Linked DNA regions of Homo sapiens. The protein of the gene in region 1 purifies or fractionates together with the protein of each later gene. This does not show direct contact. Each region holds a gene or a part of one and is shown in the gene's direction. Other genes may lie near its edges. The genes, in order: IMMP2L, NUP37, RABGAP1, SMS, KCMF1, MASTL and DICER1.

Region 1 (3,500 bases):
TTTGGTTTGACAAGGTTATATCCTCACTTAGTTGGTGATGGAAAGGATACCCACCCAAGTGAAAGAGGTCACACTATACGCAGACAATTGTGCAGTATTTTTTTTTTCCCGTGAGAAACATGCTGACTATCTCTAACCAAGTGGACTTAAATAGATAATTGAAAAATAAAACAGGGCTGCTTGATATTCAGGGTTGCATGGGTCCATAAAAGTATCCTACCATATCATGGAGTATATTAAAAAGAGCACACTACTATTTTATATAAATATTCATAGTGATTGATATTTATTATATACATTAACTTCAAAAATATTCTATTCAAATTGGGATTGATATATAAATTATAGCTATTCCAGTTGAACTGTGTTTTTTTTTTTTTTTTTTTTTTTTTTTTGAAACAGAGTCTCGCTCTGTTGCGCAGGCTGGAGTGCAGTGGCGGGATCTCGGCTCACTGCAAGCCCCGCCTCCTGGGTTCAGGCCATTCTCCTGCTTCAGCCTCCTGAGTAGTTGGGACTACAGGGGCCCACCACCACGCCCAGCTAATTTTTTGTATTTTTAGTAGAGACGGGTTTCACCGTGTTAGCCACGATGGTCTTGATCTCCTGACCTCATAATCTATCCACCTCGGCCTCCCAAAGTGCTGGGATTACAGGCGTGAGCCACTGCGCCCGGCCTGAACTGTGTTTTTAATGACTCAGTTATGTGCTATATCTTTGTCATGTACAAATAACACAAACTTTCATGTGCTTGTTCTTAGGAGGAGCCATTTACATAAAAGAGTGCTTAGTTACTAGTATTATATATTTAACAACAGATGATCGTGAAGCAATATTGTTGCTTTGAGAAAGAAACAAAAAATCTGATGCTAAATTCTTCTTTAGCATTATTTAAAGTATTTTTTTAGGTCAGGGCCAGGTGGCTCAGGCCTGTAATCCTGGCACTTTGGGAGGGCAAGGTGTGTGGATCCCTTAAGCCCAGGAGTTTGAGACCAGCCTGGGCAACACGGTGAAACCCTGTCTCTACAAAAAATACAAAAATTAGCCGGGTTTGGTGATGCGTGCCTGTAGTTCTTAGCTACCTGGGAGGCTGAGGTAGGAAGATCGATTGAGCCTGGGAGGTCGAGACTGCAGTAATCTGTGATTGTGCCACTGCACTCCAGCCTGGGTGACAGTGAGACCCTGCCTAATAAAAAGTATCTTTTTAGTCTTATGATGAAACATGCTTTCTAGACCATATCCATGTATTTTCATACAATTTAGAAACTGCTTCATTTTAGAAGATTGATGTTGGTTTGATTGCAGTTCATAATATACATTTAATTTATATCAAATATTGAATATTTGCTTTTCTTATACAATGCATCAGTTTGTTTTTAACATAGATGATAATTTTTGTTACTACATTGGAACATCCTATTTATTTAAGAAATGTGTGACACATACAGAAGTGTATATTAAAATGTTCGATTTAAAGCTGATGATAAAATACACTTCGTAATTTTGTTTAGAAATTGATATTAACAGTATACTTCATTGATAAATAAGTAATCTTTGAAAACAAACCAGTATAACCTTTTTATATTAAAAAAATCTTGAGACAATGTATTCAGAATGTGTGGTAATACACCATTTCTACTATAATATTATGTGTGCTTTTCTGGAAAATTTGCAGTTTCCAAATTCTTACTTAAATCAGTAGGGCTTATTCAACTTTATAACCAGAGCACTGATGAAAACAATAACAATGTCAATAAAAATACTAACACAGTTTAAAAGACATGAAGTTTCTAATAATTAAACTGCAGTAAAAGTAGTGTTTTACTTAAAACATAAAAGGTGAAGATAGCTTGGTGGTAGGTGGTATAAGGAAGGGTTGAGGCTGTCTGTGGATGCAAGGGCAGAAAGACATTATCATTACAAGTCATAAATAGAGAAAAGCTTGTAAGCTTTGTACAAAATGTACTGATACCAGAGTTGTATGCTCTCCTCATTGTTTTGTGTTACTTTGTTTTATTTATTTAGTTATTTATAAACAAAGATCAGGGTTAACTTTGCAGTAGCACTTCTCAGAGAAAGGCTGAATGTATAATACTGATTCCTTCCTGGTTTGCTGCCATTAGTATACGTAGCCTTCAGTTGCCTGTACTAATAAGGCAAAACATTAATCATCTGGGAAAAAAATTACATAGGAACCAATGTAACTTCTGCATTACACTGAAATCTTTTCTCCACTTACCAATTGTCTATGTTAATTCATGTTACAGAAACACATATATAGCAAAGCAGACTGTCCTTTCTATTGCAAGGGGTTTTGTTCAGAGTTGGTTGACCAGTGTTGTTTCCTAAAGCATGGGAGATCTGGCAGAGGGAGGTGGGTGCATATTATTTTTTTGCATATCTTTCTTATTTTTCACTGTCTCTTTCTTTCTGTAAAAAGTTGGTCACAGTGGAGTTATTGTTTAAGTATGTTATTCAGTAGCTACATTTATTTAATAACATTATTGGTTGCACAAAATATGATTTGCTGTCATCAAGTCCTCACTATAGTATATGTAGGTGGCATCATACTCTCTTAGTGATTTACAAACTCATAGTGGTGAGTAAGGTGAATTTTCTATACCTTGGAATTGACTTTTCGTTAACCTGTGTGATGGCCTTCCTGGCTTAACATAAGTTGCACTATTTCACAATAATATATCACTTAACAAGTCCATCGGGACAGAGGTTCTTTCATAATAAAGTCCTAAATAATCACATTTAAAAGTGTTTTAACTTAATTTTACTTTTATTTGTTTTGAAGAAAAGTTGCAAAAATAGTGTAGAGAGTTCCCACAAATCCCCTAATATTAACATTATATAGAACCATAGTTCAAGTATTGAAACCAGGAAATTGACATCAGTAGAATATTATTAGATCTAATCTTATTAGACGAATAGGTCTAGACCTTATTCAGATTTCACCTGTTTTCCCACTAATGTCCTTTTTTTGGGCCAAGATCCTACTCAAGATCCCATATTTTCATTTTTTATTTTTTATGTCTCTTTAGTCACCTTCAGTATATGCCAGTTCCTTGATCTTTGTCTTTTATGCCATTGACACTTTTGAAGGGTACTGTCCAGTTATTTTGCAGAATGCTGCTCAGCCTCTTTAATGTTTGATGCCAGACTCTCTTTCAATAGAGAAGCACTAACGTTAATGGCAGTTGCTGAGGCTGAGGAAGCTGCAGCAGTGAGAACCCCTGAATAAAGGAGAAACTCTGTCTGACTAGGCAGTAGGGCCAGCTGGGGAGGTGGATACCACAGGGGCAGAGAAGAAAGAGATGGTAGGATTTCTCTTTCAGGCATGGGTTTTTTTTTAGTTTCTTGGAACCACATACTTGGGTCATGACTACAAGGGTTCAGGGATTCTAGAAATAAGTCTACCGAGTCAAATTTATAGCTGCTAGGAAGCAAAGAAGGAGAGCTGTGTGAGTGGGAGAAATGGCCACAGTTTATAGAGA
Region 2 (3,500 bases), on another chromosome or scaffold:
GCAGTCACTCAGCTTATAAGTGAAGGAAGCGGCGTGTCTGTGCTCTTTAACTATGCTGCCCTGCCTTCCATTCTAGAAACAAACTTCAGTTGCATAAGTATGTGTAACACATAAATGTCTGTCTCTCTTGAGAGATACATACTTAGCTATTCTTTCTAGACAATATAACTAACATAACTTAAAAGTAACTTTTCCCAGAAGGAATTGTTAAATTGATCTCTTCTTCTTAGTGACGGCACATCATCACTTAAAATTCTACCAAATCTCAAAATCTTTTTTTTTTTTTTAAAGAAGGAATTTCGCTCTTGTTGCCCCGGCTAGAGTGCCGTGGCACAATCTTGGCTCACTGCAACCTCTGCCTCTCGGATTCAAGCAGTTCTGCCTCAGCCTCCCGAGTAGCTAGGATTACGCGCATGCCACCACAACCGGCTAATTTTTTTTTTTTTTTTAGTAGAGACGGGGTTTCACCATGTTGGCCAGGCTGATCTCGAACTCCTGACCTCAAGTGATCTGCCCGCCTCAGCCTCCCAAAGTGCTGGGATTACAAGCGTGAGCCACCACACCCGGCCAAATCTTGAATTGTTTATCTTGCCAGTTTTCTCTAAGGTTTTTTATATTCTCTAGAGATTTTTACATAGCCTCTTCCTTTACATTTGATCTTCCATTTGTAATATAGGTTGAGGATCCTTATCTGACATTCTTGGAACTAGAAGGGTTTCAGATTTTGGAATTTTTTGCATTTTGTAATATTTGCATATACATGAGATACCTTGGGAATGGGACCCAAGTCTAAACATGAAATTCATTTATGTTTCATGTATACCTTATACACATGACCTGATGATAATTTTATATAACTTTTTTTAATAATTTTGTGCATGAAACAAAGTTTGTGTTAAGTGCTTATATGTGGAATTTTTCACTTGTGGTATCATGTTAGCACTCAAAAAGTTTTAGTTTTTGGAGCATTGCAGATTTTCAGATGAGGAATGCTGAACCTGTATATTGCAAATGTTTACATTTTACCGTACAACAGTGAATCTCTGCTTACACTTCAGGTATAGTTAGTGAGATAAGTGATTGAGTTTCTTTTTATTTTTCTGTCTTACAGCTAATGGTTGCAGAGAAGAATGGAACAATCCGGTTTTATGATCTTTTGGCCCAACAGGCTATTTTATCTCTTGAATCAGAACAAGTGCCATTAATGTCAGCACACTGGTGCTTAAAAAACACCTTCAAAGTTGGAGCCGTTGCAGGAAATGATTGGTTAATTTGGGATATTACTCGGTCCAGGTACTTTCTTGATATGTTTGTCTATTACACACCAAAAAAAGGCAGTAACTGTTGCTAAATGATCCACTCATCCATCCTGTTATACCTGAGACTATGCTGTCAAGCGAAAGCAAGTCTTTCCTATAGAAGGCCAGAGCTATGGATTTTTATATAACATAAACTTGCTATGCAGATTTACTCTGGGAGTAACCCAGAAAGGACAGTGCAAAAGAGGAAATCTTGGATCTGTGCAATGTTGACTTATATTGGAAAATAAGAAAAACACTGACCCTGTTGCATGATGGTTCCCTGCAGTGGTTCTAAGTCATGTCTTTATTGTATTTCATCTGTTTTAACTGATTGCTTGTTTAGGATTTATTATAGTTTAAACACATTGGACATTCTGTCCTATAAAGAGAAAATACTGTTTAAACCTTAAGTTCACCCACTTGAGTTTAACACATAATTCATAAAATGCAAAATATTATCTTTTAGTTATCCTCAAAATAAGAGACCTGTTCACATGGATCGAGCCTGCTTATTCAGGTAATGTACCGTTTTTGTTGGAGCTGTGATTTGATCTTTTGACGTTGCTGTGCCACCACTGGGATACTTTTGTAGTTCTCTTCTTTGCACTGGATTTTTTTTTTCCCTTATTGTTTTATAAGTGGTTATTTTACTTTCCCGACTAAGTCATTGCCTTTGTCTTTTGGTCTAGACAAGGAGTTGATTTGTTTTCCAAATATTTTCTTTACACAGAAAAACATGTAACCACTCCACCACTACCACCCCTACAATTTGGAATATATTATGCTTCCTGATTGTTCTGTGCTGTTAAGGATGTAAATGTAGGGGAGCCCATGTTCATGTATATAAACTTTATTATTATGTGTTAAATGAAACTATGCTAGATAGTATATCTCTGCGACATGTTTTTGCTTTTCACTTAAATTAACATACATGTCTACCTTGTTCTTTTTCATAATACTCCATTGTATAGTGTGGTCCTTAAGCCATTATTTCTGCTTTTTAAGTAACAGCAAAACCAAATAAGAGACTAAAACCAGTGAAATTTTATTATATGCTATATTCCAATAAGTTGTAGAACTTAGGGATACCATTATTAAGAATAAAATACATTCGACTAAATGTAAGAATGCCATGGATCGTTAAGATACATCCTGACTTCAGAGATGTGTGAACAAATATACACCAATGAGCAAGTATCCATCAATTTTAAAATCAATGAGCTATGGTACTTATAAGTCTAGAGGAGGTAGTCTCAGGGCTTGTTGAGCAGCTCATCAATGTCATCAAGAGCTCAGACCCTTTTCATCCTTTCCCTCTGCTATTCTCAGTGTCAAGGATTGGGACTTGTTGCTTCATAGTTACAAGATGGCTGTGAGAGTTCCAGGCATAAGAGAAGTACTCCATTTGCCGAACAATTAAACAAAAAAAAAAAAGTAAGAGGAGAAGAAGGAACCCTCTCCTTTTATGGGAGATTGCTATGACTGCCTTAAACTAATTATGTCTCATCCCCTAGGGTAGGACACACTGTGCCCTGAACAAAGTTAGGCTTCACTTAGCATGGAAAAGGGGCAGAATGGCTGTCATATTTGATGCCTTATTTGTTTCTTCTACCACACTATTACCCCTTTGGTTGTGAAAAAAAGGATTGTATCAACCTTGTGTAACTTTGGAACTTAATGAAATGACACAAAATAAGCACTTCATAAAACTTAAAGTATGAGAAAATATTTATGGAATATTTTCCTGGAATTCCCGGTCTAATTGTAAAGACATATTAACAAATTTAGGATTATTAAAATCACTGGTTTTATACAAAAAGAAACCTGTTTCTGTCTAGGTGCTATGGCTCATACCTATAATCCCAGCACTTCAGGAGACCAAGGCAGGAGGATCACTTGAGGCCAGGAGTTTGAGACCTGCCTGGGCAAGATAGCAAGACCCCATTCCTACAAAAAACAAAAAATTAAAACTTACCTGGGCATCGTAGTACACACCTGTAGTCCCAGCTACTAGGGAGGCTGAGGTGGGAAGATCACTTGAGCCCAGGAATTTGAGGCTACAGTGAGTTTTGTTAGCACTTCTGCACTCCAGCCTGGGTGACAGAGCAAGACCCTGTCTCTTAAAAAAAAAGAAAAAGAAAAAGAAAAAGCCCGCTTCAGAAAAGCTTGTCATTATCCATAGGATACGATACTTAATTT
Region 3 (3,500 bases), on another chromosome or scaffold:
GAGGAGACAGTGGGTTGAAGCCCATCCTTTGTTGGGGCAGGAGAATTTCTGTGTATCAGCATCTGAGCATAACAAAGAAGAGGGGGTAGAATTCCTGCAGAAGGAAAGCACACATCATATAATGCCTGGCTGTTTCCCTACTTGTCCTCTGCTGTCTCCCTCATAGAGCAAGCTTGGGAAGTCTTGTTCTGAGCCAGTGCTCCATAGTCATTGGAGACACAGACCTGCAGGCATGGGAAGAGCTCTGGGTGCTGTGCGCCTGGGAGCAGTCCCCTCCCCTGTCACACCACGGTCGTCCAGGAGGCAGGACTGGCTGGGGTGAGAGACTGCAAAGCCCTTTCTACAGAAACCATGAGATGCTGAAAACCCGCAGTCCTCTTATGAGCTCTTTGGTTTGTGTCTGGTCTGTCAGTGAAGGTCCACAGGTTGGCTTGTACTGGCAGGGAAGACCTTCAGCAGAAGCCTCAATCTGAAATGGGGTCTGACGTTTTTGGAAGTTTTAACTGTTCTCTCCCTCTCCTGCATCAGGAACAGGGGATTAGTGCTGCCAAGATTGAAGGAAGAAAGTAGCTGAATTAGAGGACTTCCAGGGTTTGGTTCAGCAGTTTTTGGGAAGCCTAGCACTAAGCGGTTGGTGGCAGAACTTCCTTTATTTTTCTGTTAACATAGTCCCTTTTGTTTTTTTATGTGTGCAGTTAAAAGAAATGTGCCGTCGGGAACTCGACAAGGCAGAATCTGAGATTAAAAAAAACAGTTCTATCATTGGTGACTATAAGCAGGTAGGTTCCAGTACCCTGGGATTGGGCTGTGTAATCTGGGAGCCCCTAGTCTGGATAAAATGTATACCCGCCCCCCACCCCCAAACCCAAATGCAAGCACCCTGGTTTCAGATCCTGGCTCTGCCCCTGCACTGACAAGTGGCTTCACTTATTCTCAGTTGTAAAAGAAGGAAAATCATCCCTGCCTAGGAAGGTTGTTACGAGGATTTAAAAAGACCATGTTTGTAGAGTGCCTGGCAGTGCCCAGCACATAGTAGGTACTTAAAACCACAGTATGTTTTGGTATGTATTTCAGATTCAGAATTACGAACTTTTGTTTACGTGTAGTTTTAAACCGGTTATTTCCCTGACTGGTTGAGTTTTAAGAACATAACAGAATGGTCTTGTTCCCTCCTACACTAGGATCTCTTGCTGGCTCATGAGTCTGGCAGGTGTTCAGAAACCATTGGCCATTGAGTGTGGTGCTGCTTGGTTTCTGCAAGTCCTAGGCCAGTGAATGCAGAGGCGGCATAGCTAGAAGAACCCCTGCTTATCCATCGACTTCATATCCCCTCCTGAGCGGTAGCAGGCTATTTGCTACTATGTTAATTCCAATTTACATATTCCAGCTTCCACTATGGAATTTATGCAGATGATTACAATTGCTCAAGAGATTGTTGTTTTATATTTGTTTCTTTAGATTTGTTCTCAGTTGAGTGAAAGATTGGAGAAGCAGCAGACAGCCAATAAGGTGGAAATTGAGAAAATTCGGGTAAGACTTCTCTTTACCTAAAAGATTTTATACCACCTACTTCATTTTATGGCTGTATAAACAGGTTTTGGGAGGAGGCAGTTGATTTCAAAAGTGAGAGAATCTAAGCAATAAGGCACCTGTCACAGGTCCTGGCTCAGTAGTTGACAACTAACACTACGCCTGTTTTCTCTGGAAGGGTGTACAGATGAAATCAAACAAGCTCTAGCTTTAGATCTCAAAGTGCAAGTGCCCCATGATTTCCAAATGTCTGTAAGGCAGTCGATGTCCGCAGTGTGATGCTGAGGAGAAGGAGTCATGCAAGTGATAGGTCTTGCTTGAGGTGGTGGGAGTGCAGAGGTCAGAATCATGTGCTGTGGCTTGTCACTTTCCAGTGTTGTTCTGAGTTCATGCCTTCTGCTGTAACACATCCAATTACAATGAGGACCTTAGTTTATTTTTATTTTTTTTTATTTTTAGAGACAGGGTCTCACTATGTTGCCCAGGCTGGCCTTGAAATCCTGGGCTCAAGCGAAATCCCTCCCTCAGCCTGAGCTGCTGGACTCCAGGTGGGCACCATTGCGCCCAGTTTAGAACTTTAATTGTTTAATGTTTTGTTGGCAGCTTAGGAGTTTTTATAACATGGTGCTTTCTTTCTTTAAGTTCTACCTGTATTACAGAACTTGTCAGATTTTACTAAGATAAGCAATTTACTGAAAAGTGCCTCACTAACATATTTACAGCTCAGAGGACAGGAACTTGGGAAAGTTCTGTGCTCATGGCTATGTTTGCGCAAAGCAACATTACCTAGAGCAGGATGACACTGGCCTTCGTCATAATTAATGTTTAACCAGATGTGTGTGTGTGTGTGTGTGTGTGTGTGTGTGTGTGTGTGTGTGTGTGTGTGTGTTTGAGACAGAGTCTTGCTCTGTCATCCAGGCTAGAGTGCAGTGGCGCCATCTCGGCTCACTGCAACCTCCGCCTCCCAGGTTCAAGCTATTCTCCTTCCTCGCCTCCCAGCTAGCTGGGATTACAGGCTTGTGCCACCGTGCCAGCTAATTTTTCGATTTTTAGTAGAGGTAGGGTTTCACCATCTTGGCCAGGCTGGTCTCGAACTCCTGAGCTCGTGATCCACCCGCCTTGGCCTCCCAAAGTGCTGGGATTACAGCTGTGAGCCACTGCGCCTGGCCAACCAGATCTGGTTTTTAAACAGAACTTATTTTCTGATTCTAAAACTTTAATATTCTTGCAGAAAATTTGGAAAAGAAGAGTAAATAAGGGAAAAAAGCCCTTATGATCCATTTTCCACATATAACATCTTTATTAATACTGTGGTGTGTATTCTTTCAGTCTTTGTTCAGTGTTTAACGTCTAAAATTTCATTCATTCTGAGATAAGCATTTCTTTTCACATTTACATCTCTGAAAGTCGGATGTTTTATAATTGGCTTTTTGTGGTTTAATTGGCAGAATGTTTTCTTAGAGGAACATAAAATGACATTTCTTACAGTTAATGGCATCTTATTTTGATGAAATGTGGAATACATTTTATTTGTAATCATAGTTTATGTACATTTTTGTGTTCTATTTCAACCAGCATGCATCCATTTTCCAATGTTATAAAAGTTCCTCAAAAACCTTTTAGAGGCTGTGTACTTCCTTGTATAAATATAGCACAGTATATTTAATATTTAATTGTTTTTGAATAGTTTATCCCCTGCTTTTTTGCCTGTCTCCAGTTCTACAGTGAAAATTTTTGTACATAAATTTTTATCTAGTTACAGCTTCATTTTTCAGCCTGGGTTCCTAGAAGTGAGATTACTGAATCAAGACAATGATAATTTTATTATTTTTGGTGTATAATACCAAGTGGCTTTTCCAGTAGGTTATCTGCCAGTTTACAAAGAGCACAGGTTTTCAGAAACTGTAGTGCTCAACAGAGAAGCCGTCTCTTGGTGTCCCCCAAAGGAGATGCTCACACCATCCTAAAGG
Region 4 (4,283 bases), on another chromosome or scaffold:
AGCCCGAGGGCCACCTGTGCTGCCAGACACAAGCTGCAGAGCATAACCAGCTACGCAGTTTGCAGGCCAAGGGCAAAATAAAAACACGGGGCCCCTTGTTCGAGAGTTAAGAATTTCAAGATGGCAACAGCAGAGAATTAAACCAAGTGCAGGGCCCTTTTGATGTGAGGCCCACACTGGTGCTGAGTGGGGAAAGGCACACCTGAGGCCCATGGAGCCCTACTGCTCCTGCAACATGCAGGACAAAGACAACTCTATTGTCAGTGACCTGACTCCAGGGGAATGGCAAGAAGTGAAGAACATCCCAGGAAGAAAGAGGAGCTGCAGACTGACATAGCTAACTGAAGGATGAGAATTGCAATAGCTAACAAAATTGAGAATCTAGGACACAGAGAAGAATGGTAAGACATGCAGAATAACAAACAGGTGGCCATGGGTAGACAAAAATTAATGCAGGTACTAGAAAAAGATTCAGTTCTTAACAGAGAAAGGTCTGTTCAACAGACCCTTGTTGAACACTTGTGAAGACACTGCCCAGTTTTTGTAGAAAGGTGAAGAACTCAGCAAAACAGCCGTTGCCTGGGGGAAGAGGTGAGTTTAATATCCAGGTTCTTCGTTGCTTTTGTGGAGGTACATGAGTTCATGGATTTAAATTTTGTCTAACCATTACAGCAATTCCTGTGGCCGTGAGAGGCACAAAAGCCTGACACGATGATGGAGGCATTTGCCCAGGGATATTGTCAGTGCAGTAAAGAATAATTTTAGTTCAGACGCTCATGCTGTCTCCCCTTTGCCATCATTTTGTTGAACAGCAGCCATAACCCCAGTGTCAAAAATAAGCCCCCCGCAAAGGCTATTGCCATTAATAGAGGCGCCAGTGATGGAGGAGTCCTGCTAGACAAGCAACTCCGGAGTCTGCAGTTTCCTAATTCAATATTAACAACAATGCTGTCCTCTTACTGGCTTCTCCCTCATTTTATTTTGCGTGAAACTGTGGATAACGTAAATGCCCAAGCGCTTTCTATTCAGTCCTCAAATGCAAAGCAGACCCTTGCTAATAATGGTAATAATCCGAATGGGTTTAACTGCAGCATTGTAAGAAAAGGCAGGCAGTACTCTTAGACTACAGGGGTGGATCTCATCATTTGATTTTCCCGACTCCGCCAGGAAATAAGAGGGGCCTTGGCTTGGGGAGAGGTGTGTGGGGAGGCGTAAGGGGTGGGCCCCCCGGAAATCCTGCTGCGCTGTTTAAACCTAAGGTGACCTAACGGATGGCGGGAGCGGCCGCGCGAGCCTTGGAGCAGGGCGCGGCCATTGGTGACGCACGCCGGGGAGCACGGCGCCCACGTTTCCACCATTAGCGAGGCCTCACACCCGGCGCTCCAAGTTCGGGGCTGGAGGCGTCCCGGCTTCCTCCCTCCCGGAGCGGGACCGGCCCCGCCCCCGCGCCCCGGGTCGCTCCCGGCGGCCCCTCCCACCTCCTAGTCCTGGCCTCCCCGGGCGCAGCACACTCCCAGCCGGCCGCAGCCTGACACGCCGCGCGGCCCCCCAGTCTCCCGCGGCTGCTCCCCCAGGCATGGCACAGGGCCTCGCCTCACTATGGCAGCAGCACGGCACAGCACGCTCGACTTCATGCTCGGCGCCAAAGGTGAGGGCGCCCGCCGCCACCTGCGTGGCCATCCCCGCCGCTCCCGCCGCCTGGCGGGCTGGGGCGGGGGTCGGGCGTGGCGTGCGCCGCGGGCCGAACAATGCGGGCGGCCCGCGCGGCGCCGCACTCTCCCGGACTGCCACGCACAGCGCGCTGCGGGGCCGCGTGCACCGGCGGTCGGGCGGAGGCCGCGCTCCTGCTGGCTCCGCGCTCCGTCCCGGCCGCAGCTCGGGGCCTGCAGGGGCAGTCCCGGGTGCCCGCCGGCCGCGCCGCCCTTCCGGGCCCTGGCCGTCCACCCGCGCTCCCACGCGGGCTCGCCGCCTTCGCGCTCCCGCTCGGGGAGTCCCCGGGCTGCCGGGCGCGGGCGGACCCCCCATGGGACGAGGGTTGCAGGGACTGCGGCGGAGCGAGGCGTGACCCGCGCGGCGAGCCCGGGCTGGGGGCGTGCGCCGAGCGGGGCTGCCCGCGCGACCTTTTCCTGTTCTTGCAGGCGGGTAAATTTCCCTCTTGGGGGCGGGGGTTTCCCCTCGTAGGGAGCTGGGGCTGGGGAAAGGTCTGCGGACGCGCAGCGCTTGCAGAATTCTCAGCCGACTGCGTAGGAGACGGATCCCCCGGAAAGGAACTGGGGGACGGGAAAAGGAAACGATTATTATTATTGGGGGTGGGGAGGCATGAGGTCTGGGCGCGGGAATCGTTTACACCCCGAATCGGGGAGCTATCAAAAGACAGCCGGCCGGGCGCGGTGGCTCACGCCTGTAATCCTAGCACTTTGGGAGGCCGAGGCGGGCGGATCACGAGGTCAGGAGTTCGAGACCAGCCTAGCCAACATGGTGAAACCCCGTCTCTTCTAAAAATACAAAAATTAGCCGGGCGTGGTGGCACGCGCCTGTAATCCCAGCTACTCGGGAGGCTGAGGCAGGACAATCGCTTGAACCTGGGAGGCGGAGGTTGCAGTGAGCCAAGATCGCGCCATTGCACTCCAGCCTGGGCGACAGAGCAAGACCCTGTCTCAAAAAAAAAAAAAAAAAAAAAAAAAAAAAAAAAAAAAAACCCGACCAGAAGAGAGAGGCCTGCTAAAGTCGGAACTGTGTGCAGGAAATTTGAAGGGGAAGGATAATTTGCAGGCTTCTTTTCTCGGGGTGCCTCTGTCGTGGGGGGTGGGAGTCGCGGGAAGGATAGAACTGCCCTTTCTTTTTCTGGTGGCTTTTAAACCTGTGACTGCCGCAGACTTGAATCTGCACTTCCCATAGGTTCCACTTGGAGTGTCTCGCTCATACCTTGCTTTTCCCACTGTTTTCCTCGAATTGGATAGAGCAGGCTTTTCTCTTACCATTTTTAACACTGTTCCTTTCTTTCTGAATTTCTGAGTACTCACTTTGCATTTTCTCCCGCAAATTTAAAGGATCTCCGAAGGCACAAGATCTAGTGAAGACTGAGGATTTGGAGCAACACCTGGGTTTGAGTCTGGCTTCTTCCTGATGGGCTCTGCGTGTGGCCTTGGGTTTATGTTAACCTTTCTGAGCCTTCCCTGTCCATTAAAAAGAAAAAAAAAAGTGTACACCTCTTCGGGCTTTTACTCTTAAGGGGGTAGCTGTGGAGCACACTGTAGGGTTTTTAAGCAATGTCAGTGTATTTAGGTGGTCTGAAGTGACTTAGAGAAAACAAAGCATGTTAATTTTAGTTCCCACATTTCTTAGGTGAGGATGGTAGGGCATGGAGACTGCTAGAGATGAAATGGTGCTTGAGTGGTGGAGCTGAAGAGCCAAGGTTTCATTAATAACCCTGCCAGCCTTAGGGCTGAATGGTTAATGAAAGCTCTAGCATACTGAATTTAGCGGTGAGGAGAAATAGTGTATTAGGGTCACCCAGCTAGTAAGGGGTGAGTCTGGGAAGTGTCCCTGTTGTGAGCACCTTGTGAACACTCACCTGTATTTATCGTCCATGGATTTTCTTAACTTTTTTTTTTTTTTTTTTTTTTAATTCTGAGATGGAGTCTCACTCTGTCGCCCAGGTTGGAGTGCAGTGGTGCGATCTCGGCTCACTGCAACTTCCATCTCCTGGGTTCAAACAATTCTTGTGTCTCAGCCTACCAAGTAGCCGGGATTACAGACTCGAGCCACCACGCCCAGCTAATTTTTTTTGTTGTTGTTTAAAGTAGAGACAGGGTTTCACCACGTTGGCCAGGCTGGTCTCAAACTCCTGGCCTCAAGCGATCCGCCTGCCTCAGCCTCCCAAAGGGCTGGGATTACAGGCATGAGCCACCGTGCCGGTGTGTCCATGGGTTTTCTTTTATGCTTTAAGGAGGGTGATCTCAGCATGGAGCCCAAAGACTCTGGCACTTCCCTTTGTCCTTAAACCTCCTTGGCCAAATTTAGATTTAGTCTCTTGAAGTGCTGGTTCACAATAGGATGTTTTTGTTGTTTTGTTAAAGTGGGAAAAGAGCGAATGAAGAAAAAGTGAGAGAATTTTAACACTTGGGGCTGACACTGTCCAGGAGAACCATGGATGTATCGTGTGGGAGGGAGGAGGAGAAACTGACGTTTTTGAAGTTGGAAAGGTGTGGAAGTGGCATCTTAATTTAGTTGTGCAAAGAGGAAGTAAAAAGATTGACGATAAAGACGTGTATAGATCAGAA
Region 5 (3,500 bases), on another chromosome or scaffold:
AAATTTTTTTGTAGACAGGATCTCTCTATGTTGCCCAGGCTGGTCTTGAACTCCTGGCCTCAAGCCATCCCCCTGCCTCGCCTTGCCAAAGTGCTTGGGATTATAGGTGTTAGCCACCACACCCAGTTATTTCTTTTAACAGGTCAAGAATTATTTGATGCCCCAATTCTGATATGAACTCATGACTGATTCTGCTGCTCCTGCTAGTTCTTTCTGATGGTGCTTTGTTTTTTTGTGTGTATTTTATGGTTTAAATTATGAACTTATTCTTTGGATGTTTATATATGCCAGATGCTTGGTATCAATTCTAATTTAAGACCACTTAAAATTCTTGACCCAAGGTCTTTGGAACCATTTGATAGAATTTGGGCTATAAACCCATGAGGACTGGTTTGTGGTTATGGCTTTTTGTGTTATTTTGTGCCCCTAGGGCAGGGGGCTTTCACTGGGGTAATTTTTGTAATCCCCTAGGGAGGATTTCTAGCCTACCCATGCATTGAGAGTATATTAGGGTCTTGGTTTTATGAGGAATCTTCTGTTAATTATCCCACCTTCACTAGGCCTTTGTCCAATAATGCTGTGGACCTTAAGCTTAGATTTTTACCTGCTTGGGCAAATACCCTCATGGTGAAAAGCCTTCTTTAGTGCTTCCAGTCACCAGTTCCTCTTCGTCTTGGTTTTTACCTTCTTGCTGGCTTATCAAGGCTTTTTTTTTTTTTTTTTTTTTTTTTTTTGAGACAAAGCCTCACTCTGTTGTGAGGCTGGAGTGCAGTGGCGCGATCTCAGCTCACTGCAACCCTACCTCCTGGGTTTAAGCAATTCTCATGCCTCAGCCTCCCAAGTAGTTGGGATTACAGGTGCCAGCCACCACGCCCAGCTAATTTTTGCATTTTTAGTAGAGACGGGGTTTCAACATGTTGACCAGGCTGGTCTTGGACTACTGACCTCAAGTGATCCACCCGCCTCGACCCCCGCAAAGTGCTCAGATTACAGGCGTGAGCCACTGCACCCAGCCTGTATCAGTCATTTTAAATTATTTTCATGTGGAGTATAAATCAGAGTAATGAATCCAGCACATGGCTAAAACTTCCCGTATCATTTTACTAAGTCATTTCTAGTCATTTTGGAAAGGACATATGAGGTTAAATGAGCACCTGAAACATTCATAAAAATGAAATCAAGAGTGGCCTTTACAACTGGTAACTAAAGATATTTCTTTTTTTTATAGGTGTCAGCTGTGATGCATGTTTAAAAGGAAATTTTCGAGGTCGCAGATATAAGTGTTTAATTTGCTACGATTACGATCTTTGTGCATCTTGTTATGAAAGTGGTGCAACAACAACAAGGCATACAACTGACCACCCAATGCAGTGCATATTAACAAGGGTAGATTTTGGTAAGTAATTAAAAATTTAATGAATTACATCATTTAGAATTTTATGTACGTTGAAGAAGTAAAGGCAAAGTGTTCTAAAACTCCCCAGCAGCATACCATAAGCCCCAAATTCATTAAACATGAAATAAATCTTACTTTTTTTTGAGACGGAGTTTCGCTCTTGTTGCCCAGGCTGGAGTGCAATGGCGCGATCTTGGCTCACTGCAACCTCCACCTCCCTGGTTCAAGCAATTCCCCTGCCTCAGCCACCCGAGTAGCTGGGATTACAGGTGCACACCACCACGCCTGGCTAATTTTTTTGTATTTTTAGTAGAGACAGGGTTTCACCACGTTGGCCAGACTGGTCTCGAACTCCTGACCTCAGTCAATCTGCCCGACTCAGCCGCCCAAAGTGCTGGGATTATAGGCGTGAGCCACTGTGCCTGGCTTTTTTTTTTTTTTTTTTTTTTTTTTTGAGGAGTCTTACCCTGTCGCCTAGGCTGGAGTGCAATGTCGTGATCTCAGCTCGCTGCAACCTCCACCCCCCAGGTTCAAGCGATTCTCCTGCCTCAGCCTCCCAAGGAGCTGGGATTACAGGCGTGCACCACCATGCCCGGCTGATTTTTTGTATCTTTAGTAGAGATAGGGTTTCACCATGTTAACCAGGCTGGTCTTGAACTCCTAACCTAATGATACACCTGCCTCGGCCTCCAAAGTGCTGGGATTACAGGCGTAAGCCACCGCGCCCGGCCTTACTTTTTACGTACTAAGTAATTCTGTCTGTTCATCTTAATCATAGTTTACTTGTTTAAAAAAACCATTCAGAAATATACACAACTGACAAGGAATGAAATAGAAGAGTGCTTCAGTAAAGAAGAAATATGCTCTGTCTTTTGTTCGTGCTATTAACACACAAATAATAGCTTTATTTTATTTTATTTTTTATTTTTTTAAGACAGAGTCTCACTCTGTCGCCCACGCTGGAATGCAGTGGCCGGATTTCGGCTCACTGCAACATCTGCCTCCTGGCTTCAAGCAATTCTCGTGCCTCAGCCTCTTGAGTAGCTGAGACTACAGGTGTGTGCCACCTTGCCCAGCTAATTTTTTTGTATTTTTAGTAGAGATGAAGTTTCACTATGTTGGCCAGGCTGGTCTTGACCTCAAGTTATCCACCTGCCTTCGCCTCCCAAAGTGCTGGGATTACAGACGTGAGCCACCATGCCCAGCAATAATAGCTTTTGTAGTGACCAGAAAACAGATTGTTGGCTGGTTATGGTGGCTAACGCCTGTAATCCCAGCCCTTTGGGAGGCTTAAGATGGTCAGATCACTTGAGCCCAGGAGTTTGAGATGAGCCTGGGCAACATGGCAAAAACCCTGTCTCTGCATCCACCCCCGAAAAATACAATAAATTAGCTGGATGTGGTGGCGCACATGCATCTGTAGCCCTAGCTACTTGGGAGGCTGAGATGGGAGGATCACTTGAGCCCAGGAGGTCAAGTGTGCAGTGAACCCTGATTGTGCCACTACATTCCGGCCTGGCCAACAAAGCAAGACGCTATCTCAAAAAAAAAAAAAGGCAGATTGTTTCTACAGTTGATTAGAAGACATTGTAAGAAAATATATAAATGTTTCATGCTATAATTTTTTTTTTTTTTTTTTTTGAGACAAGAGTTTCACTCTTGTCGCCTAGGCTGGAGTGCAATGGCGCCATCTCAGCTCACTGCAACCTCCACCTCCTGGGTTCAAGCGATTCTCCTGCCTCAGCCTCCTGAATAGCTGGGATTACAGGTGCCCGCCACCATGCCCAGAAAATTTTTTTTGTATTTTTAATAGAGACAGGGTTTCACCATGTTGGCCAGGCTGGTCTTGAACTCCTAATCTTAGGTGATCCACTTGCGGGCCTCCCAGAGTGCTGAGATTACAGACATGAGCCACCACGCCTGGCTTCGTGCTATAATTTCTTACCTAGCCCACACTTTTTGTCCTTTTTATTTCAGCCATCCTAGTAGGTGTAAAGTAGTATCTCAGGTGGTTTTGATTTATATTTCTCTGAAATATAAATTATGTTGAGCATCTTTTCTTGTGCTTATGGGCCATTTGTATATCTACTTTGAAGAAATACCT
Region 6 (3,500 bases), on another chromosome or scaffold:
CTGTCTTGCTGGTCTTACAAAGTTGTTGTGAATGCCAGGCGTGGTGGCTCACACCATCTTTGGGAGGCCAAGGTGGGAGGATCACCTGAGGTCGGGAGATCGAGACCAGCCTGACCAACATGGAGAAACCCCGTCTCTACTAAAAATACAAAATTAGCCAGGCATGGTGGTGTATGCCTGTAATCCCAGCTACTTGGGAGGCTGAGGCAGGAAAATTCCTTGAACCTGGGAGGCGGAGGTTGTGGTGAGCCGAGATCGCACCACTGCACTCCAGCCTGGGCAACAAGAGCGAAACTCCATCTCAAAAAAAAAAACTTGTTGTGAAATAACAAATTATCCTAAAAATTTTTAAATGCTATTTAGTACAATAGGTTATATGTAGTTCTGTCTTACGTGTTGTCTTAATCATTTGTTAGCCATAGCCTTCCTCAGTGGCTCTTCTTAAGCTTGTATTAGTCCATGCTATCAGTCTTCTTGCAGATTTTTTCACTGAACATTTTTCTTGCAGATTTTTTTTATTGTTTCTTATCTAGATCTTATTGGAATAATCAGTGTTGTCTAAGCTTTTGAACTTCACCAGATAAAAGGACTTTTTCATAATTATAACTAATTATGCATTCATTTTCAAAACTTATCAAAAATTTGACTACATCCTTTACGCCTAGTAGCCTATGAGCTAGTTATTTGGCTTGTGTGTTTCACCATTTTCTATTCGGTGTAAAAGGAATTAAGATATTTGTTATCTCTTAAACCCTTTTTGAATTAGCAGACCCCAAATCAGATCAAGTCGGGAACTCCATACCGAACTCCGAAGAGTGTGAGAAGAGGGGTGGCCCCCGTTGATGATGGGCGAATTCTAGGAACCCCAGACTACCTTGCACCTGAGCTGTTACTAGGCAGGGCCCATGGTAAGGCATGCATGTCTTGAGTTTTTGAAGTGTTATCTATCACTACATTATCTTTCAAGGTTAAATTTTAAAAAATTTCTTCAGTACTTACGTTACCTAAAGTAAAAGAAAATGAACTCATCTAGTATATATATGGCATTTGTCATAGGAAAATAAACTAGCAGTAGCCATGGCTGTCCCACTCTCTGAATGTAAAAGACCAGATGCTGGAGTACATGTAGTCATTTGTCCTTTGCCTTCTGGTTCAGTCTCAATGTTCCAGAGAAGCCCCACCTGCCACCCTTGATATTATCTTATCTCTTTTTTTATTTTTTTATTTATTTTTATTTTTATTTTTTGAGACAGAGTTTCTCTTTTGTCACCCAGGCTGGAGTGCAATGGTGCAATCTCGGCTCACTGCAATCTCTGCCTCCCAGGTTCAAGTGATTCTCTGGCCTCAGCCTCCTGAGTAGCTGGGATTACAGGCATCCACCATCATGCCCGCCTAATTTTTGTATTTTTAGTAGAGACAGTTTCACCATGTTAGCCAGACTGGTCTTTAACTCCTGACCTCAGGTGATCCTCCCACCTTGGCCTCCCAAAGTGCTGGGATTACAGGCGTGAGCCACCGTACCCGGCCTATCTTACCTCTTAATGTTTCTTCAGGTTGGATGGAGTTTGGGCTCAGGACCACAATGTTGGGTCTAAATTTCTGTTCAGTCTTCAGAAGCCTATTCCTGTTTAGAACTTATTCTCAGTTATATCCTTACCAGAAGAGTCAAGCCAGAAATGAACCATCATCCTTCAAAACAGAACATAAGTATAGAAAGATAGGGCTGGTTACGGTGGCTCACGCCTGTAATCCTAGCACTTCGGGAGGCCAAGGCAGGTGGATCACTTGAGGCCAGGAGTTCGAGACCAAGCTGGCCAACATGGTGAAACCTCACCTCTACTAAAAACACAAAAATTAGCTGGGCATGGTGGTGCATGCCTGTAATTCCAGCTATTCGGGAGGCTGGGGCATGAGAATTGCTTGAACCTGGGAGGCCGAGGTTGCAGTGAGCCAAGATCGTGCCACTACACTCGAGCCTGGGCAACAGAGCAAGACTCTGTCTAAAAAAAAATAAAAATAAAAATAAAAAGATGACATTTTCACCTATCTTCTTTTCTTCCCTTTCTCTCTGAAAACTGTTCCCTTCCTGCATTCTGAAATGAACTGTATTCATCTTCCTAGGGATGCTGTAGCACAAACTGGGTGTCTCAAACCAATAAAAATTCATTGTTTCACAGTTCTGGAAGCTAGAGTTCCAAAATCAGGTGTCCACAGGGCTATACTACCCCTGAAACCTGTAGGGAAATCCTTCTTTGCCTCTTCCTGGCTTCTGGTGGCTTGCTGGCAATCCTCAGTGTTCCTTGACTTGAAGATGCCTCATTCCAGTTCTCCCTCTTTCTGTGATGGTGTTCTCCCTGTGTCTCTATCATCATAGAGCTGGCTTCTGAGAAGGACACCAGTCATTAGGAGCCCATCTTACTCCAGTATGACCTCATCTTAACCTAATCTTAACCTAATTAATCATAGTTGCAAAAACCCATTTCCAAATAAGGTCACATTTTTAGGTACGGGTTAGGACTTAAACATAGCTTTTTTGGGAGGGACACAGTTCAACCCATAACATCAACCTCTTCTACATGTTGATGTTAGTTACTTCCCTTTTCTTTGAGCTCTTTTCATGATCATCTGTTTCATCCTCCCCACCCCACCTCTCACACCCTTTCTTCTGTTTGTATTTCCTTGCCGGCTTTTATCCTCAGCCTGAAAATAAGTTTCCACCCTTGTCTCCCCAACATTGCCTAACTTCTCAAAGGTTTCCTCTTTGTTTGATTATTTTGCTCTGGCAACTTATCATCTCACTATTTAACTGAAAATTCTTTTATTTATTATTTATTTATTTATTTATTTAGAGATGGAGTTTTGCTCTTGTTGCCCAGGCTGGAGTGCAGTGGCACGATCTCAGCTCACTGCAACCTCCGTCTCCCGGGTTCAAGATATTCTCCTGCCTCAGCCTCCCGAGTAGCTGGGATTACAGGCATGCGCCACCATGCCCGGCTAATTTTGTATTTTTAGTAGAGATAGGGTTTCTCCATGTTGGTCAGGCTGGTCTCGAACTCCCGACCTCAGGTGATCTGCCTGCCTTGGCCTTCTGAAGTGCTGGGATTACAGGTGTGAGCCATGGCGCCCGGCCTAACTGAAACTTCTTAATGGGCACCAGTGATTTCCTTATTGTCAAATCCAATTGTCTCTTCTCATTCCCCTGACCTCTGTTGCTGCTCTTCAGTTCCTTCCTTACCTCTTCTAAATATAGTTCTTGGAGATTCTGCCTTTACCCTTTTTGCCCTACACGTGCTCCATGTTCATCTCATCACTCCCATGATGTCAGTTTGTCACCTCCATGTTGATGATTCCCAAATCTCTGTCTCTAATCCTGACTTTCTCTAGGCAGCAGACAGACAGCCAATCTGGCTATTCAGTATTCTACTGATCTTTCAAATGTTGGGTCTCAAAACTGGACTTGTGGGGCCTGGTGCTGTGGCACATGGCTGTAATCCCAGCAC
Region 7 (3,500 bases), on another chromosome or scaffold:
TGGAAAAGCTGAATGGTATTTCATTGTATGAATATACTGCATTTTGTTTATCCATTCATCTGTCCATGGCCACTTGGGTAGCTTCTATCTTTTGGCTACTGTGAATAATGGTGCTGTGAACGTAGGTATACAAATAATTCATTGGAGTCCATGCTTTCCCTTCTTTTAGACATATACCTCAAAGTGGTCACATTGTTTCTTGATCTTCAAAACACTAGACTAGACTCAGAATTTATTGCAGTATGAGTTTTCTCAGGGTTCCTCCAAGCAGTGATAATTTCCTACAAACAACTCCTCTGTCAGTAAAATCTGTAATCTCTCTGAAGCCCAGGGTCGACTCCTTTTTACGATCTTGGTTCCAATCATAGTGTCTGGCAGGTATTCAAAAAACTGATCAAACATGGAGTGATGTGCTTTATTGAATGCCAGAGGAAGATATTGGTGAGGTCTTTAATTTGTATAAAGAGAAAGTTGGAGCCAAGTGACTTATTTTGTTTACCTTTTGCTGTGCTTTTTGGACATTCAAGAGCTTAGTTCATCCTGAAAGCCCAGTGTATGTATTATACTCGCTCTTATTCACAGGTTTCTTTGCAATTTACGACTTGCCAAATGACTAGTCTTCTGAGGCAGCATTATTTTCTTGGTATTCCACCTCCTTAGCCTGTGGGGCTTGGACCTTTTGATTTTTTGATGGCTAGTTTTCACTTCTTCCAAATTTCTGCTAAGACTCTAGTATTAGTACATTTATTTAATAGTTTATGATGTCTATTTTGAGAAAGGATTTGAAATGGTCTTATAATAGGAAAGTATTAGAGTACTATGAAAATGGTAAAGGTTGGTAGTATAGAATGTGGAGGCAGAGAATTAGATGAATGATTGGGGCAAGGAAAGGTGAGTGCTGCATGTAACTCACGTTGATTAATGAAAGGAAGCATACCAATTTGAAGCAGATTTTTCTCTTGTATGAAGAATAATCAATCTTTTGGATTATTACATTAAATAACATTAGCAATATATGGAGAAAATGTTTTACATTTTACAAACGATAGAGAAACATTTTTTCACATGCCATTTTAGAGAAACTGGATAAAAGCCTCAGGCATAATAGAAAAGCTTTAGTAATACAGGTGTTCACTGTTCCAGTGGTTTGATTCATTAATTTCTTTTGGGTGGTGTCCCTCGAATATCAGTTGTCTCATTCAGGCTGTTGACAGATGCTAAATAACAATCCATTCAGGAATAAGCTCTGTGGACAACATGGGCAGTGAGGATTTTCCAAATAGGAATTCTCACCCAGTCTTTTTTTTTTTTTTGAGACGGAGTCTCACTACGTTGCCCAGGCTGGAGTGCAGTGGTGCGATCTCAGCTCACGGCAAGCTCCGCCTCCTGGGCTCATGCCATTCTCCTGCCTCAGCCTCCCGAGTAGCTGGGACTACAGGTGCCCGCCACCACACCCTGCTAATTTTTTGTATTTTTAGTAGAGATGAGGTTTCACCGTGTTTAGCCAGGATGGTCTTGATCTCCTGACCTCGTGATCCTCCCGTCTCGGCCTCCCAAAGTGCTGGGATTACAGGTGTGAGCCACCGTGCCCAGCCCTCTCACCCAGTCTTTAGGAACGTGTGTTGGTCTAAAAAGTAAGACTGGTTGTATCGTGGTGTATACTTGATGAATTAATACAGAAAGAAAAAGATTATTTTTGAGATGTAGCTGGTGAAATTGACATTTTCAGTTATGTAATAAAGCCTTTGTTAAAATAATTCTGAGTGCAAAATGGCTTCCTCATCTAAAATTGTCAATGAATTGTTGGTACTCCTTTAACATGCAGTTACCTCAATATGCATTTTAAATAAGTGACTAAGAAGATGCTACAAAACATTCTCTGAGGATGTCAGTAAGACTGTTACTAGAAGTAAGACATGACAGGCTTAAGTTTGGCCTTAGAGTTTTTTCTTTTTGTTTTTTAGGCTTATAACAGCATTACATGTTCTTGGTTGTGTTAAGGTTTATGGAATAGTAAGGATTAGATTCTTCATGCATGTTCATTACCAGACATGGTGCTTGACATATAGGAGACACTCCGATTTGTTGAGTGAGTAAGTTAATTTATAATACTTTTTGAAGTATTTAGAAGCTAACACAGTTTTGTGGGGAAGAATATTGCTTGCATATTAAGGCTTTTAAAAAGATTATTACTATTCTGCTTTTGGACAAATCATGCTACTTGGTCCTTTTTGCTTTGTGAGGTACGTATGATTATGTGCACAGAAACATTGCAGACTGAGGGAAGTGTTAAGAATCGTGGGAGAAAATCGCCGTCAAAATTGGAGTTTAACTGTATTGCAGACTTTCTCCTTGTTGGCACAGACTAACTCTGTTGTGCTTGTTCGTTCTTTGACAGCTCAATGTATGCCATAAAGCAGGGGTTTTAACAACACATTTGAACAATTCTTGAGGATTAGAAAATGAGGTCTGTTAACCAGTTCAGAATTTTAAGAAAACAAACCGGTTGTACTTAGAGAACTTGAATAATGAGAGAAGACTCTTAGTTTAAAAACTGATCTTTGACATGATGTAGGAAGGTTCTTTGATTAAGAAGTTAAATGACCCTGTTTGAAGGGAAAAAGAAAGGTAGTAGTCGTATTTAGTCGTATTTAGTCCTCTGAGATGTTTCGAGATTGCAGGATTTCTGTCTTTCCTCTTTTGGTAACATCCTGGGAGGTGAGATTAACATGATGAACTCACAGCCTGTCCGCCTCTTATGCATCCTGCTGCCCAGCCATCACTGTCAGTTGCTCTGATTCATGGTATTTTAAGTTCTTTCCACTTTGCAGAGTTAAATATTAATGTTTTATCATAGCTTTGTAGGGATGCTTAAGAGCAAGTGTTTGGCGTCAGAGAGACCAGGGTTCAAATCCTGATTCTTCGACTTTATAGCCGATGAGCACTGGGCATATGGCAACGTCTCTTGAGTCTCAGCTTCCTTGTCTATAAACTGTCGTAGTGGTGTTTGCCTCTTGAGGTTTTGAGAAAAAAAAGGAGTTTCTTAAACTCTCATGGTACATAACTAGCATTTGATAAAATTAATGTAATATTTTTCTTTTAAATACGTGTATTAGAGAAAATTTTAACATGCAATAGTCTTAATGTGATTAGATTATATTGTGAGCCCCCAAATTATCAATATTGAAATGTATGGTCTAGTAATATAATGGAGGATGAAGGAAAAGAGGGCTTGAGAACAATATTTTACAGACAAGTTTTCGAGGAGGATTATCTATACTGGTTCAGCTATCTTAGTTGGTCTCTGTAGTAGTGATACCAAATGTAACAGTGCCTTAAACGTCTCTTAACTTTCCCTAAATAACACATTCTTCATCTGCTATGCATGAATTAACACATCATCCTTGAAATCATACTTCAATTCAGTGTATAAAGCCAAGTGTTTTGTAAAATAAACCTCAAGTTAGGTTTTATGTTTCCTTATGATTAGATTCAGGTTT

The links.
Region 2: the proteins of IMMP2L (region 1) and NUP37 purify together in Homo sapiens (affinity purification with mass spectrometry; one large-scale study listed by BioGRID and IntAct). This does not show direct contact.
Region 3: the proteins of IMMP2L (region 1) and RABGAP1 purify together in Homo sapiens (affinity purification with mass spectrometry; one large-scale study listed by BioGRID and IntAct). This does not show direct contact.
Region 4: the proteins of IMMP2L (region 1) and SMS purify together in Homo sapiens (co-immunoprecipitation; one large-scale study listed by IntAct). This does not show direct contact.
Region 5: the proteins of IMMP2L (region 1) and KCMF1 purify together in Homo sapiens (affinity purification with mass spectrometry; one large-scale study listed by BioGRID and IntAct). This does not show direct contact.
Region 6: the proteins of IMMP2L (region 1) and MASTL purify together in Homo sapiens (affinity purification with mass spectrometry; one large-scale study listed by BioGRID and IntAct). This does not show direct contact.
Region 7: the proteins of IMMP2L (region 1) and DICER1 purify together in Homo sapiens (affinity purification with mass spectrometry; one large-scale study listed by BioGRID and IntAct). This does not show direct contact.

What each region holds. Positions count from the first base shown.
Region 1 is NC_000007.14:111,482,493-111,485,992, reverse strand, and holds part of IMMP2L (mitochondrial inner membrane protease subunit 2), read left to right. Parts: intron 1-2,264; coding exon of another isoform or gene 2,265-2,346; exon of another isoform or gene 2,347-3,500. UniProt on the Homo sapiens protein: Catalyzes the removal of transit peptides required for the targeting of proteins from the mitochondrial matrix, across the inner membrane, into the inter-membrane space. Known to process the nuclear encoded protein DIABLO.
Region 2 is NC_000012.12:102,075,115-102,078,614, reverse strand, and holds part of NUP37 (nucleoporin Nup37), read left to right. Parts: intron 1-1,111; coding exon 1,112-1,293; intron 1,294-1,767; coding exon 1,768-1,818; intron 1,819-3,500. UniProt on the Homo sapiens protein: Component of the Nup107-160 subcomplex of the nuclear pore complex (NPC). The Nup107-160 subcomplex is required for the assembly of a functional NPC.
Region 3 is NC_000009.12:123,098,020-123,101,519, forward strand, and holds part of RABGAP1 (rab GTPase-activating protein 1), read left to right. Parts: intron 1-695; coding exon 696-779; intron 780-1,458; coding exon 1,459-1,530; intron 1,531-3,500. UniProt on the Homo sapiens protein: May act as a GTPase-activating protein of RAB6A. May play a role in microtubule nucleation by centrosome. May participate in a RAB6A-mediated pathway involved in the metaphase-anaphase transition.
Region 4 is NC_000023.11:21,939,226-21,943,508, forward strand, and holds the start of SMS (spermine synthase), read left to right. Parts: upstream 1-1,483; 5' UTR 1,484-1,599; coding exon 1,600-1,648; intron 1,649-1,771; exon of another isoform or gene 1,772-2,142; intron 2,143-4,283. UniProt on the Homo sapiens protein: Catalyzes the production of spermine from spermidine and decarboxylated S-adenosylmethionine (dcSAM).
Region 5 is NC_000002.12:85,026,661-85,030,160, forward strand, and holds part of KCMF1 (E3 ubiquitin-protein ligase KCMF1), read left to right. Parts: intron 1-1,228; coding exon 1,229-1,396; intron 1,397-3,500. UniProt on the Homo sapiens protein: E3 ubiquitin-protein ligase which accepts ubiquitin from an E2 ubiquitin-conjugating enzyme and then transfers it to targeted substrates, promoting their degradation by the proteasome.
Region 6 is NC_000010.11:27,172,352-27,175,851, forward strand, and holds part of MASTL (serine/threonine-protein kinase greatwall), read left to right. Parts: intron 1-766; coding exon 767-908; intron 909-3,500. UniProt on the Homo sapiens protein: Serine/threonine kinase that plays a key role in M phase by acting as a regulator of mitosis entry and maintenance.
Region 7 is NC_000014.9:95,151,030-95,154,529, reverse strand, and holds part of DICER1 (endoribonuclease Dicer), read left to right. Parts: intron 1-3,500. UniProt on the Homo sapiens protein: Double-stranded RNA (dsRNA) endoribonuclease playing a central role in short dsRNA-mediated post-transcriptional gene silencing.